Linked DNA regions of Homo sapiens: region 2 is linked to region 1. Evidence: fine-mapped expression QTL. Tissue or cell type: whole blood. Region 1 holds a variant in brackets; the other region holds the start of a gene. All regions are shown on one strand. Distances are between the middles of the regions.

Region 1 (8,100 bases):
ATGGACAGATGGATGGATGGATGGATGGATAATGGAGAGACAGATACAGTAAATTTGGAGAGTCTAGGTAAAATGTATATGTATATGAGCCTGTTCCATTCTTGTCATTTTTCCGTAAGTTTGAAAATATTTCCAAATAGAAGGTTAACATTTTTAAAAATATTTTCACTGGTAAACAGCCCCTGCCCTCAGCCACCCACTTCTTCTATTGCCCGCTCCCAGCACCCTAAGTTCCTGTTTCCTACTCTGGGACACCCCCACTCCAGGTCGCCATGTTCATGTCACTAAAGAGTTAATGCTAGGTGCAGCAGGAGGCCCTAGACCCTGCCCAGGGGACCTCTGCACTTTAGCACATTGTTAAATATTTTGAATGTTCCCTTTGGCTGTGACGCATGAAGGTAAATTTTGCCTCTGCTGGTTTCGCAAGCTCCCAGCAATCCTTGACTGCAGAATGACTCAGACCCTCGTAAGGGGAGCCTCCCCACCCTCTGCTCTGACATCGCCTTGTCACTCCCTCATCAGCTGACAAAGCTCCGTTCCTGCCATGAGCTCACTCAGTCCTTTCCTCTGGTTGACTTCAGAAAGGCAGAAAAAATACGCTGATTCCAACGTCCTGTGGTTTCCGGGATCTTCAGACGCAAACGGCTTGCAAAGTTTGCCACTGCAGCACCTCTCCAAAGACTGGAAATAACTGACATGTCCAGCAAGAGGGGACTGGCTAAATTAATGATGGTACATCCAGGCAACAGAATACTACACAGCTATCAAAAAGAATGGAAAAGTTGGCCAGGTGCAGTGGCTCATGCCTGTAATCCTAGCACTTTGGGAGGCTGAAGCAGGGGGATTGCTTGAGCCCAGGAGTTCAAGATCAGCCTGGGTAACCTAGCAAGACCCTATCCCTACAAAAAGGAAAAAAACAGACAAAAAGAATGTTTATATAATGATGTGGAAAGACCTCCAAGATCTAGGGTGAGGCCAGGCGTGGTGGCTCACGCCTGTAATCCCAGCACTTTGGGAGGCCAAGGAAGGTGGATCACTTGAAGTCAGGAGTTCAAGCCCAGACTGGCCAACATAGTGAAACCCCGTCTCTACTAAAAATACAAAAATTAGCTGGGTGTGATGGCAGGCACCTGTAATTCCAGCTACTCAGTAGACTGAGGCAGGAAAAACACTTGAACCCAGGAGGTGGAGGTTGTAGTGAGCCGAGATCGTGCCACTGCACTCCAGCCTGGGCAACATAGCGAGACTCCATCTCTAAAAAATAAAATAGGCTGGACACGGTGGTTCACGCCTGTAATTCCAGCAATTTGGGAGGCCCAGGCGGGTGGATCACCTGAGGTCAGCAGTTCAAGACCAGCCTGACCAACATGGTGAAACCCTGTCTCTACTAAAAATACAAAAATTAGCCAGGAGTGGTGGCGTGCGCCTGTAATCCCAGCTATCTGGGAGGCTGAGGCAGAAGAATCACTGGAACCCGGGAGGTGGAGGCTACAGTGAGCCGAGATCGCTTCACTATACTCCAGCCTGGGCAACAAGAGCAAAACTCCATCTCAAAAATAAAATAAATAAAGTAAAATAAAATAAAATAGTGAAAAATAAACGTAGGTAGCTGCATTGTGGCACGTGGCCCACATATTGGGCAGTGCAGGTCCAGGGCCACTCTGGGGGTTCTAATTGCCCGGCACTATTCCATGTGCTTCCCAGGTGTTGGCTTAGTAATTTCCTAATCACAGTGCATATCTATGTGACAATAGCACAAAGGGCAGGGTACTATTATTCTTCCTAAATTCACATGCTCATTAGAGGAACAACCCTTGTCTGTTGCATGGAGAAAGGGGCAGAGAGCAGAAGCTGGGAGGAAACGGAGATTGGAACTGTCCAGGTGACGTGAGGCATGACGGTGGCTTAGACAAGGGTGCTGGCCGCAAGATGTGAACGATCGGATGAGAACAGGGTGAAGGAGAAGGCGCAGTACCTACAAGAACAGCCATAATCATTGCCAGGCTGTCCTGAGCCTTTCTCGTGTATTATCTCATTGAACCCACAAAGCAACCCTAGGAGACTTACTTGTTGCAACAGCAACACTCATTTTCCAGAAGAGAAAAATGAGGCTACAGAGAAATGAACAGACCTCTCCAAGTCTTCTCGGTTAGCAAGAACAGAGACAGGAGAGAAACTCCTGAGAGCTGAGCCCCAGAGCCCTCTCTCTCTTTTTTTTTTTTATGAGACGGAATCTCGCTCTGTCCCCAGGCTGGAGTGCAGTGGCGCGATCTCAGCTCACTGCAAGCTCCGCCTCCTGGATTCACACCATTTGCTAGCCTCAGCCTCCCGAGTAGCTGGGACTACAGGTGCCCGCCACCATGCCTGGCTAATTTTATTTTTAGTAGAGACAGGGTTTCACCGTGTTAGCCAGGATAGTCTTGATCTCCTGACCTCGTGATCCACCCACCTCAGCCTCCCAAAGTGCTGGGATTACAGGCATGAGCCACCGCGCCCAGCCCAGAGCCCTCTGTTTGAGTGGCTACCAGGCAGGCCTAAAGTGCATTGGGAGTGGGGGGGCATGCATTCTAGGCAGAAAGGAGAGAGGAAGGGCAGGTGGTGCACAGCAGAAACGAAAGGTCAGCATGGCTGGCAGGCGGCCAAGATAGGACTGGAAGGTCTGCAGATGCTGAGTTAAAGAATGTGGCTGGACGCCAGGCGCGGTGGCTCACGCCTATAATCCCAGCACTTTGGGAGGCTGAGGCGGGTGGATCACGAGGTCAGGAGTTCGAGACCAGCCTGGCCAACATGGTGAAATCCCGTCTCTACTAAAATAAAATACAAAAATTAGCCGTGTGTGGTGGCACGCACCTGTGATACCAGCTACTTGGGAGGCCGAGGCAGGAGAATCACCAGAATCCAGGAGGCAGAGGTGCAGTGAGCCAAGACTGCACCACTGCCCTCCAGGCTGGGTGACAGAGCGAGACTCTGTCTCAAAACAAAACAAAACAGACCAAATATTAGAAGCAAACTAAATTTCCATTGAAGGGGATGAAACCTCCTACTAGCATATTACTCAGCTGATAAAAGAAAGAAAGAAGCACCAGGCTGGGCAACATAGCAAGACCCCACCTCTACAAAAAATTTTAAATCTAGCTGGGTGTGGTGGCATGCACCTGTAGTCCCACCTACTCAGGAGGCTGAGGTGGAAGACCTCAGTAGACCCTGTCTAGAAAAAAGAAAAAAAGGAGGAGGAGGAGGAGGCAACTCCCTTGAACTACACGGGAATGAAGTACCTTCCTCAAGGTTAAGGGGAAATTAATGAATGCCTAATACAACGCCTGGTATGCAGTAAGCACTCAATAAATGCTAGTTAATAATACTATATGTTATTCATTTAAAAAAGCCAGATGTAGAGTACTGTACAAAACATACTGCCATTTATAAGGCTGGGAAAGGATAGAAATGTCACCCACATTGAGCGCCAACTGTATACCAGGCACTGCTACAAGAACTTTTCATGCATTCACTCAGTCAATTCTCTCAACTAGCCTATGATGTAGATTCTAGTATTATCTTCACCTTAAAGATAAGGAGAAGGAGGCTGGGTGCGATGGCTCACGCCTGTAATCCCAGCACTTTGGGAGGCCAAGGCGGGAAGATTGCTTGGGGCCAGGAGTTCAAGACCAGCCTGGCCAACACGGTGAAACCCCGTCTCTACTAAAAATACAAAAATTAGCCAGGCATGGTGGCAGGCACCTGTAGTCCCAGCTACCTGGGAGGCTGAGGCAGGAGAATCACTTGAACCCAGGAGGTGGAGGTTACAGTGAGCTGAGATCACACCACTGCACTCTAGCCTGGGCAACAGAGCAAGACACTGTCTCAAAAAACAAAAAGATAAGGAGACAGAAGCACGGAGAGGACAGATCTCCGCAACTATTTCATAGTAGAGACAGAAGCTGAGCTCGGTTTTGGGGTTCCCCGCATCACACTAGTCCTTACTTTGTTCCCTAAGCATCTGTGCTCTCAGGCATCTGTAAACTGTTTCTGGAAGGATCCACCACAAACTGGCATCCCATGGTTGCCCCAGGTAGGGTAGGAGGCAATGAAAAGGAGTCAGAGGGCCAGGTAGGGTGGCTCATACCTGTAATCCCAGCACTTTGGGAGACCAATGTGGGTGGATCACGTGAGGTCAGGAGTTCAAGACCAGCCTGGCCAACATGGTGAAACTCCGTCTCTACTAAAAAGACAAAAAATTAGCCAGGCGTGGTGGCGCATGCCTGTAATCCCACCTAGTCGGGAGGCTGAGGCAGGAGAATTGCTTGAAGCCGCGAGGCAGAGGTTGTGGTGAGCCAAGATCGTGCCATTGCACTCCAGCCTGGGCGACAAGAGTGAAACTCTGTCTCAAAATAAAAGGAAAGAAAAGGAGTCAGAGGCTCTGGGGTAGGCAGGGAGAATGAGTTTTTTTTTTTCTATGTTTGTTTTTTGAGATGGCCCTGTTGCCAGGCTGGAGTGCAGTAGAGCAATCTCGGCTCACTGCAACCTCTGCCTCATGGGTTCAAGCGATTGTCGTGCCTCAGCCTCTCAAGTGCTGGGACTACAGGCGCCCGCTTATATGCCCAGCTAATTTTTGTAGTTTTGGTAGAGACGGAGTTTCACCATGTTGGCCAGGATGGTCTCAATCTCCTGACCTTGTGATCCGCCCGCCTCAGTCTCCCAAAGTGCTGGGATTACACGCATGAGCCACCGCGCCTGGCCGAGAATGAGTTTTTACCAAGTATCATTTGGTACTTTGGAAAATGTTTTGGAAAGAAAAAAAA[A/G]AAGAAGAAGAAGAATCAGAGAGTCCCGTTTGCCCAAGTCGGATCTCAAGGGTGGAATGCAGGAATGAAGCAACATCAGACCCCTCCCTGGTCCATCCAAACCATCTTCCGTTTCCTCTTTGACACAGATGAAGCAAGGCAATGCCTGTGTTACAGCAGGTGCTGAATCGCAGCTCTGCTGGCTCAGTGCCCAGGCCTCCAGACGCAGGGATGACAGGGACCCTCATTTAGCCTGGGGTGCATTCCTTCTGACACTCACAGAATCCATGGCATAACCTGCTTCTGCCACCAACCATGGAGGGTCCCCATCCATCTCTGCTCCTGCCTGGGCCTCAGTTTCCCCATCTCTGTCATGCAGAACATCTCAAACGACCAGGCATAATGGCCTCATGCCAGTAATCCCAGAGCTTTGGGAGACCAAGGTGGGAGGATGGCTTGAGGCCAGGAATTTGAGACCAGCCCTGACAACATAGCAAGAACCCATCTCTACAAGAATAAAAATTTTAAAAATTAGCCGGACATAGTGGTGCATGCCTGTGGTCCCAGATACTCAGGAGGCTAAAGAGGGAGGATCACTTGAGCCCAAGAGTTCAAGACTGCAGTGAGCTATGATGGTGCCACTGCACTCCAGCCTGGGCAACAGTGCAAGACCCCAAGTCGAAAAAGAAAAGAACATCTATCTGCAAGAGCATCTGAGTAACTTGACCATTCCTCCAAACTGGTTCTTTCCAGCCTCCCAACATTTTCTCTGCCATTCCCACTGCCTGGAAGGCCTGTTCTAGATTTCTTCACTTGTGGAATTCTTTAAATAAAAAAAAAAATACAGACAGGGTCTCACTATGTTGGCCAGGCTGGTCTTGAACTCCTGGCCTCAAGCAATCCTCCCGCCTTGGCACAATCCCCAATGTGCTGGGATCACAGGTGTGACCCACTGCGCTCGGCTGCTTGTGGAATTCTTAGTCACCTTACTAGACCCAACTCAAGGGTCCCCTCCCCTGGGGAATCTTCTCGGGCCCCAGCCCCACGAGGTTGCTGTTGCTCCCACAATCTTGACAATCTTATTCCCATGGCCACATCCCAGCCCTGGAGTGTGAGAGCCTGGGATGCAGGAGAGAGGGAAGGTGGGAGGTGGAAGACAGGGAGAGAGAAGGAAAGGGAGAGACAGACAGAGTTGACGGCGAGAGTTGGGGAGAGAGAAGGACCCACTGGAGCAAAGATGGGAGGGACCCAGGACAAAGTTTCCTGCTCCCATTCCCCTTCGAGACTCACCATGTTCTGGTCTCCTGGGCTCCCCGAGGATCGAAGGTCCCTCCTGCCCAAGGGCTGTGGTTTTTAAAGCCCCAAGGGAAGATGCAGGGAGGAAATGACCGTCTTTCTCTCTGGGGCTCTCATTGGTCTGCACACTGGGCACTGAGGCCAGAGCTCCCTCTGCGGGGCACACACCCAGGGGACTCTAACCACCTCCTCCCAGGCAGAGAAGGGGGGCCGGCGCTCGGAAAACCGAGGAAGCTCCTGTGCAGGCTCGGCCCCTCTCCTGGCCTTGGTTTCCCTATTTGGGGCCATCTCTTCTCTCTCATTTTTTTTTTTTTTTTTTTGATAGAGTCTTGCTGTGTCGCCCAGGCTGCAGTGGAGTGGTGCAATCTCGGCTCTCTGTAACCTCTGCCTCCTGGGTTCAAGCACTTCTCCTGCCTCAGCCTCCCGAGTAGCTGGGATTACACGTGTGTGTCACCACCCCCGGCTAATTTTTTGTATTTTTAGTAAAGACGGGGTTTCGCCATGTTGGCCAGGCTGGACTCAAACTCCTGAGCTCAGGCAATCACCCACCTCAACCTCCCAAAGTGCTAGAATTACAAGTGTGAGCCACTGCGCCCGGCCTGGAGCCATCTATCTCTTTCCTCCTAAGACGCCAGCCTTCTGGGCAAAAGCTCAGGAATGCAGTTGGCTTAAACCCCTCCCTTGGGATTCAAGAAAGCAGAGACTGTAACCTCCACTCAGCCTCCCGGCCAGGCTGATTTGAGACCCAAAGAGGCTGAGCTAGTCTGCGGAGGTAGCCCAGCATTTAAGTATATTTTACTGTTAAATCTTCCTTCTAGGGCCAGGTGCAATGGCTCACACCTATAATCCCAGCACTTTGGGAGGCTGAGGCAAATGAATCACTTGAGGTCAGGAGTTCAAGACGAGTCTGGCCAACATGGTGAAACCCTGTCTCTACTAAAAATACAAAAATTACCCAGGTGTGGTGGCAGGTGCCTGTAATCCCAGCTACTTGGGAAGCTGAGGCAGGAGAATTGCTTAAACCTGGGAGGCAGAGGTTGCAGTGAGCCAAGATTGCGCCACTGCACTCCAGCCTGGGCAACAAAGCAAGACTCTGTCTCAAAAAAAAAAAACCATCGTCACCAGCCTGGCCAATATGGTGAAACCCCATCTCTACTAAAAATACAAAAATTAGCCAGGCGTGGTGGTGGGTGCCTGTAATCTCAGCTACTCAGAAGGCTGAGGCAGGAGAATTGCTGGAACCCAGGAGGCGGAGGTTGCAGTGAGCAGAGATTGCACCATTGCACTCCAGCCCAGGCTGACAACACCAAGACTCAATCTCAAAAAAAAAAAAAAGAAAAGAAAAAGAAAAGAAAAGAAAAAAATCATCCTTCTAGGGTTATAAAGTTGGCAATAGAAAATGGAGCTACCCTGTCCCCCAACTACACAAGCCACAACCATCTCCATCTATTATTGTTACATTGTAATATATAATGAAATAATTATACAATTCAACATAATGTAGAATCAGTGGAATCCCTGAGCTTGTTTTCCTGTAACGAGATGGTCCTATCTGGGGGTGATGGGATACAGTGACAGATCATCAGGCATTAGATTCTCATAAGGAGCTTGCAACCCAGATCCCTCACATGCGCTGTTCACAACAGGGTTCATGCTCTTTTTTTTTTTTTTTTTTTTTTTGAGATGGAGTCTCACTCTCTCACCCAGGCTAGAGTGCAGTGGCACGATCTCGGCACACTGCAACCTCCGCCTCCCAGGTTCAAGCGATTCTCCTGCCTCAGCCTCCCGAGTAGCTGGGACTACAGGTGCCTACCACTGCACCCGGCTAATTTTTGTATTTTTAGTAGAGACGTGGTTTCACCATCTTGGCCAGGCTGATCTCGAACTCCTGACCTCGTGATCCACCCGCCTCAGCCTCCCAAAATGCTGGGATTACAGGCTTGAGCCACTGCGCCCGGCCTGGGTTCACGCTCTTATGAGAATGTAATTCCGCCCCTGATCTGACAGATCAGGCGGTAATATGAGC
Region 2 (8,099 bases), 470 kb before region 1:
CCAATTCACATTGAACATGACCTCATTCTGCTCTGGTAAAGAATTTTAGGAAATGGAACTTGAGTTTAACGCATTTGAAAACTAGTTTTCTGGCACAAGGCACACTGGGAGCTGGTACTTGGGTCCACAGTGTGTTGGGATGGGATACTCTGTTCTAGATCAACATGGAATGGGAACTGGTGCTGAAGGTTAGAGGGGAGTAAAAAGTATGGCCAGGCGCAGTGGCTCACGCCTATAATCCCAGCACTTCGGGAGGCCGAAGCAGGCGGATCACCTGAGGTCAAGAGTTCAAAACCAGCCTGGCTAACACGGTGAAACCCCGTCTCTACTAAAAAATACAAAAAATTAGCCAGGCGTGGTGGCAGGCGCTTGTAGTCCCAGCTACTTGGGAGGCTGAGGCAGGAGAATGGCGTGAACCCGGGAGGCGGAGCTTGCAGTGAGCCGAGATCACGCCACTGCACTCCAGCCTGGGCGACAGAGACTCCGTCTTAGAAAAAAAAAAAAAAATTTGCCCAGCATGGTGGCAGACATCTGTAATTCCAGCTACTCACGAGGCTGAGACACAAGAATCCCTTGAACCCAGGAGGCAGATGTTGCAGTGAGCCGAGATCACACTACTGTACTCCAGCCTGGGCGACAGAGCGAGACTCCACCTCAAAAAATAAACTATGCTCCAGGCCCTGCAGTGCCAGAGACCAGAAAAAGGGCTAGTAACTGTTCTAGAATGGGTTGGGTTTCACGCTTATCTGGACCATACTGGCTTACAAACTGGAAAATCAGACTCAGAAGGTGCTGGAAAGTAGTTCTTTGTTCCTGAGGTTCATATAGAAATTGCCACTTGTTCCACAATGTATTAGGCTGGAAACAATACTTGGTTCAGAGTGCTTAAGGAGGCCAAGCACGGTGGCTCACGCCTGTAATCCCAACACTTTGGAAGGCCAAGGCAGGTGGATCACCTGAAGACCAGCCTGGCCAACAGGATCAGACCTACTAAAAATACAAAAATTAGCCGGGCATAGTGGCATGTGCCTGTAATCCCAGCTACTTGGGAGGCTGACACAGGAGAATTGCTTGAACTCGGGAGGCAGAGGCTGCAGTGAGCCGAGATCGCGCCACTGCACTCCAGCCCGGGAGACAGAGCAAGACTCCATCTCAAAAAAAAAAGAAAGAAAGAAAGAAAAACAGTGATAAGGAACCAGTAGCCAACTCCAGGAACTAGTGGTCAATTCTAGTGCTTAGGAGCTGGTTCACATTTTTCAATTGCTGGGTTGGGAAGGGGGGCTCAGGTTTACAGTGTGTTGGGAGCTGGTGGTGTATTTCATTCTCGGCTCTATGGGGAGAACTGGGAGTCAGCTCTAGGGTTTTTTTGGAGCAGACAATCCATTCTAGAGTTAGCATTTGTTTCTAGAGCATTCTTGGACTCATGTTCAGTTCCAAAGTGGGTAAGTTTCTGGAGCTGGATCAGGTCTGGAATATTCCTAGAACTAATTCTCAGGTTCAGAGCCCGGTGATAATTAGTGACCTACTCGAAATTGTGGAGCAAGGAAATTCTGTCTCAAAACATGCTGGGAACTTGGCCGGACGCTGTCACATGACCTGCTGGGTTGGGAACTGTTTCTTGGCAATGGGACAAAGACCTAGAGTTCCGGATTCTGAACCGTTGGGTTGCTAGCACTTTTCATTCCCAAACCAGGAGAGCTGTTTTAGGGCAGCCCTCTGACCCCACCACCAACTCAGCTGTCATCTTGCATACCCCATCTCAGCTGTCATCCTGCATACCTCTGACCCTATCTCAGCTGTCATCCTGCACACCTCTGACCCCATCTCAGCTGTCATCCTGCACATCTCTGACCCATCACCATCTCAGCCGTCATCCTGCACACCTCTGACCCATCACCATCTCAGCCATCATCCTGCACACCTCTGACTCATCAGCATCTCAGCCGTCATCCTGCACACCTCTGACCCATCACCATCTCAGCCGTCATCCTGCATACCTTTGACCCATCACCATCTCAGCTGTCATCCTGCACACCTCTGACCCATCACCATCTCAGCTGTCATCCTGCATACCTTTGACCCCATCTCAGCTGTCATCCTGCATATCTCTGACCCATCACCATCTCAGCTGTCACCCTGCACACCTCTGACCCCATCTCAGTTGTTGTCCTCCACCAACCGGGTCTAACTTTATCCCGCTCGCTCTGGGGACACACGTGATGTCCCCCCCATCTCCCAGGCTCTCCACCCTGGGCCAAGGAGTCAGAGCATGGGGCAGGGAGAAGATCCAAAGGGTGGTGTCCCTGTCTAGTGGGCCCCCTCACCTCTGCCTTCAGGGCGCATTAGCCCTGAGCCAAGGCGGCTTTGATGGCGGCCACCAACTTCAGAAACTTGCTTTCTGTGTCCACGTAGCCATCGCCTTTCTAGGGAGGGGAGGAAGAGGGAAGGGGTGAGCTGGGACCGAGACACCAACCTCAGCCCCAACCCCATGCTAGCCCCAAAACCAGGCAGGACGGACAGACAGACATACCTTCTTAGAGTGAATCAACTTCCCGGCTACCATCACTTCAAAGAACCCGGTGGCCTGGGGAGTTCCCTCGCCGCACTGAGGAAAGGGGGTAGGGGAGATGTTGGAGGGGCTAAGATGTCCTCTTGGGGAGACCCTCCCCTTCCCAGGGGGATGAGAACATGGGTGAAGGGCGTAGGGCTGACCTAACCCCCCTGCAGTGCCATCCAGGCCTAACGGACCGACACAGTGGCTGTGCTCAAGTCTTTCTCCCCATCCCAAGACTCACGATGTCCAGGCGGCCGGGGAACTCATCTTCTAACTTCTTCTTGAGCTGAAGATACTGAAAACGCGGTGAGAGGTCACAGCAGGGGTCATACCAGTCAGCCCCCTCCCAATATGCACTCTACCCCTCCCCAGCTCCCAGGAATGCCCCCCGGGCATCCACTCTGCTTACCTTGGACTTGTAGCCTCAAGCGCCACTGGTAGGAGAGTCCAAGACATTGGGGCCCAGGGGAGAGAGGGAGAAGTGGGGGATCGGGGAGAGGAGGGTAGACACAGGCGGTGTGGGGAGAGAGCAAGATGGGGCCAGGAAGAAATAAAGAGGAACACAGATGACCAAGCAGAAGAGGTGACAGATGCCCTCAAGAGAGAAGACAGGCACCAGCCAGGCAGAGTTTTGGGACACAGCACAGGGGGTGGCGCGGGGACACACAGAGACACACAGAAAACCAACACCAAGCAAGAGACAGAGAAGGGGGAGGGGAAAAAGGGGAGAGAGGAGACAAGGAGACCACAAATACGAGAGACGGGGACGGGGGAAAACCAGGAGAACTGGATTAGGAGAAGAACAGCACACGTAAGGTCCCCACCCACTCCCTGTGCCCACCACCCTCACCCACAGCCCTCGCAGCACTCCAAGGAAAACCCTGCGGCTCCTGGATTCTTACACCACGCCCAGCTAATTTTTGTATTTTCACCATGTTGGCCAGGCTGGTCTCGAACTCCTAACCTCAGGGGATCGGCCCGCCCCAGCCTCCCAAAGTGCTGAGATTACAGGCAGGAGCCACCGCACCCGGCCCCGCAGCTCCTAGATTCTGAACACCTTCCCAGTCCCCAGGGTGAAATACAGGCTCACCCAACCCCCACAGCAGGCTATTTCGGGACTGGAATCTGGTGTACAGGCCTGGTAGGCGTCTCAAAATGTCACTCTTGCCTCTGCTTTGTCGAGCAGGCAGAGACGTTGGAAAGCTGCCGACAAACCCAGGTTCCAGTTACCCCTGTCACCTGCAGTCCAGACTTGAAGCTACTGACCTGCCCCCACCCCAGTCCCAGCCTCAGTTTTCTCACCTGTAACATAGAACTAAAATTCCTCTCTTTAATTTACTTTTTTTTTTTGAGACAGAGTCTCGCTCTGCTGTCCAGGATGGAGTGCAGTGGCACGATTTCAGCTCACTGCAACTTCCGCCTTCCGGGCTCCAGTGATCCTCCTGCCTCAGCCTCCCAAGCAGCTGCGACTACAGGAGTGCGCCACCATGCCCGGCTAACTTTTTAAGTTTCTGTAGAGACGAGGGGGGGGTCTCCCTGGGTTGCCCAGGCTGGTCTCGAACTCTTGGGCTCAAGCGATCCACCCGCCTCAGCCTCCCAGTGTTTGGATTACAGGCGTGATCAACGGCACCTGGCCTAAAATTCCCCTCTCTTAAGGGATTCCTGGGAGGATAAATTCATTGAACACGTATTTATTAAATACCTACAGCATGCCACACAGTATTAGGTGCTGGGGAGTGGAGAGAACGTAATTTATATCCTATCCTATTATACCCTTCCTGAGACTTGCAGAAATTAAGCGTGTTCGGTATTGACACAGAGCCTCCCTCTTGCCACAGACGGAAAACTGAGGCCAGAAAAGGAGTGGGGTTCGTGGCCAAGGGAACCCACTGGGCAGAGGCCAACAATTCAAGTGCTTCTGAAACACAGGCTGAGACATTCTCGAACCTTCTGGGCTCTCACTGTCCCCACCCCGCGACTGTTCGGGATATTGGGGGAGGGGAAGCCTTAGGGTGGAGGAGCCTTAGGTCCCTTTACAAAGCTGACCCCCAGCCCCTTCCCCAGCGGAGCCCCGGAGTCGGGGGTTCGAAATTGACACACACTCGTCTCAGCCCCACCTTTTATAACCCGAGATGCCCAGCGTGTCACAAGTCGAAGACGGGGCCTAGGGACGACCGCCCTCTGTTTTTCGCCCCTCCGTACGCCCACCCCACCCACATACAGGGGCTCCCTTTTCCCATACAAGGGCTCCCATGGGTCCTCTCCCCGGGGCTCCCTGACCCCGGCTCCGAGAATCGGGTCCCGGCGGGGGTCGGGGACGGGGGCCGCTGGCCGCTGGGCTTACCAATAAACGACTCGGACGGCGAGAGCCATGGCTCGGGGCTGCCACATCCGCTGAGGAGCGGACGCCCGGGCCACACTAACCTCCCACCTGGACGCGCTAGGTCTGCGCGAGTGCGGCGGGAACCTGCGCAGAAAGGATGGAGCCTCGGCTTCCCCTGGCGCCAACCAATGCCAGGGAGGGGCGGTGGGCGGTGGGCGGAGAGGCGCCAAGGCGGAGGATAAGGAACCCGCGACCCGCCAGCCCGAGGCCCCCACACAAGTCTCCTTCCCATCCTCCTGTTGGGCTGGAGAGAGTCTCGATACAGGCAGTCCCCGGGGGAAGCCCTCCGCGCGTCCCCTCCCAGGTCCCCCCGGCCAGAATGGTACGGCCCACGGGGGCGGTGATTTACGGCTGGCCGCTCCCAGCTGGACCCGGAATCAGCCTCAAGGGTGGTCTTTTCACTGCGTGGGCTTGGGGACGGCGCGGTGGGGACAGAAGCAGGGCGCGATTCTTGAGTCCCTCACCTCCCCTGGAGAGGGCGAGGGGGCGAGAGGGGAAGGATTCGGGGTAGACCAGGTGAGGGAGGAGACAGGGAGTTGAGGGGGAGGTTTTCAGGGAGCGGTCCAGGGCCCACAGTTGCCTTATAAAGACCTGCAGCCGCAGGGCGCGGTGGCTCACGCCTGTAACCCCAGCGCTTTGGGAGGCAGAGGCAGGAATTCAAGACCAGCCTGGGCAACATAGCCAGACTGCGTCTCTACAGAATAATAATAATAATACATTAGTGGCTGGGTGCGTTGGCTCACGCCTGTAATCCCAACACTTTGGAAGGCCGAGGCGGGCGGATCACTTGAGGTCAGGAGTTCAAGACCAGCCTGGCCAACATGGAGGAACCCCGTCTCTATTAAAAATACAAAAATTAGATGGGCGTGGTGGCGCGTGCCTGTAGTCCCAGCTACTCGGAAGGCTGAGGCAGGAGAATTACTTGAACCTGGGAGGCGGAGGTTGCAGTGAGCCAAGATCAGGCCAATGCACTCCAGCCTGGGTGACAGAGCGAGGCTCCACCTCAAATAAATAAATAGATAATAAATCAGCCGGGCGTGGTGGTGTGTGCCTACAGTCCCAGGCTACTTGAGAGGCTTAGGCAGGAGGCTCGCTTGAGCGCAGGAGTTTGGAAGCTGCTGTGAGCCGTGATTGCACCACTGCACTCCAGCTTAGGCCACCAAGCAAGACCCTCTCTAAAAAAACAAAAGGCCTGCTGCGGCTGGGCACGGTGGCACATACCTGTAATCCCAATGCTTTGGGAGGCCGAGGCAGGAGGACTGCTTGAGCCCAAGAGTCTGAGACCAGCTGGGGCAACATAGCAAGACCCCATCTCTACAAAAACTTTTAAAATTAGTCCGTGTGGTGGCATGTACCTGTACTCCCAGTTACTGGGGAGGCTGAGGTGGAAGGATCACTTTAGCCCAGGAGTTTGGGGCTGCAGTGAGCCGTGATTGTGCCACTGCCACCCCAGCCTGGACAACAGAGTAAGACACTGTCTCGAAAAAAGAAAGAAAGGAAAAGGCCTGGCCAGGCACAGTGGGTCACACCTGAAATCCCAGCACTTTGGGAGGCCAGGGTGGGTGGATCACCTGAAGTCAGGAGTTCGAGACCAGCCTGGACAACATGGCAAAACCCCGTCGCTACTAAAAATATGAAAATTAGCCAGGCGTGGTGGCGCATGCCTGTAGTCCCAGCTCTTCGGGAGGCTGAGGCAGGAGAATCACTTGAACCCAGGAGGTACAGGTTGCAGTGAGCCAAGATCACGCCATTGCACTCCTGTTTGGGCGACAAGAGCAAAACTCAACTCCATCTCAAAAAAAAAAAAAAAAGGAAAAGGAAAAGGCCTACTGCCGGACCTGGCACAGCCTGGTCATTCATTACAGAACAATAGTCACTCCCCATGAACCCTCTCCGTGCAGAGGGGATCGTCATGGAAAGTGCTAGAAACAGGCAGTTGAGTTGAGGAGTGAGGGTGCAGGGGCTTATCTCTGAGCCTGTTTCTCCATTTGGAAGTTGGGTGTAATTGCCTACAGGAAATGTTCACTCATTTAACAAATAGGTACTTCATAACCACCTGCAGTCCCAGTTTCCAGGGATACAGCAATGAATAAATAAACAAAGTCCCTTCCTTCATGGGAGTGATCTGGCAGGTAGAGACAAAGGGCAGGAAACAACATGAAAACAGCACTTCCATTAGATGGTTGATGTGAGCAGTAAGCGAGTTTATACAGGTAGGAAGAACTAGAGCTCTGACTGGCACACGGGGATAACTCAATAAACTCAGCCTGATGAGGTGGCTCACACCTGTAATCCCAGCACTTTGGGAGGCCGAGGCAGGCAGATCACCTGAGCTCAGGAGTTCAAGACCAGCCTGGCCATCATGGTGAAACCCTGTCTCTACTAAAAATACAAAAATTATCCCAATGTGGTGGTGCACGCCTGTAATCCCAGCTACTTGGGAGGCTGAGGCAGGAGAATCACTTGAACCCAGGAGACAGAAGGCAGTGAGCTGAGATTGCACCACTGCGCTCCAGCCTGGGCGACAGAGCGAGACTGTATCAAAAAAAAAAAAAAAAAAAAAAAAAGGTTAACTCTATCTGGGATTTCCCTGTCCCCAGATCCCCTAGTCTTTACCTCTTAGAACCCTAAGCAAAGTTCAAGTCGACTCCACCCACCTCAGTCTGATCCCCCTGATCTTGGGAGGATTTAATGAGCAAGTGCATGTAAAGCAACACAGGGCTGGGCAAAAAGTGAATGACCCACAAATAGAGCTATCTTCTGTGACTCCCAGAGCCCTCAACAAAAACTCAAACCTCTGCCTGGGCAACATAGTGAGACCCCATCTCTATAAATACAAATTATATATATAGATATGTATATACACAAAAATATATATACAAAATAAATATATACATACCATATATATTTTTTTGTTTGTTTGTTTGTTTGTTTTTTGAGACGGAGTCTCACTCTGTTGCCCAGGCTGGAGTGCAGTGGCACAATCTCGGCTCACTGCAACCTCTGCCTCCCAGGTTCAAGCAATTCTCCTGCCTCAGCCTCCCAAGCTGGAGCTACAGGCATGCGCCACCATGCCCAGCTAATTTTTGTATTTTTAGTAGAGACAGGCTTTCATCATGTTGGCCACACTGGTCTCCAACTCCAGACCTCAAGTGATCTGCT

What was found. PIP is the estimated chance that this variant, and not a neighbour inherited with it, causes the effect.
Region 2: it holds the start of SELENOW, and the variant in region 1 is fine-mapped to the expression of SELENOW in whole blood (TOPMed, PIP above 0.99).

What each region holds. Positions count from the first base shown.
Region 1 is chr19:47,307,867-47,315,966 of GRCh38, reverse strand. C5AR1 (complement C5a receptor 1) reads right to left here and starts at 6,106. Exons shown (of 2, transcript NM_001736.4): 1 at 6,069-6,106. The coding sequence starts at 6,071. RefSeq lists an enhancer at 301-595 and a silencer at 552-747. The variant A/G (reference allele first, on the strand shown) is at 4,800.
Region 2 is chr19:47,775,614-47,783,712 of GRCh38, reverse strand. It overlaps SELENOW (selenoprotein W), which reads right to left and starts at 5,010. Exons shown (of 6, transcript NM_003009.4): 1 at 4,899-5,010; 2 at 2,964-2,988; 3 at 2,796-2,849; 4 at 2,531-2,605; 5 at 2,325-2,423. The coding sequence starts at 4,927. The coding sequence ends at 2,343. RefSeq lists an enhancer at 2,060-2,645 and silencers at 4,713-4,852, 4,863-5,122.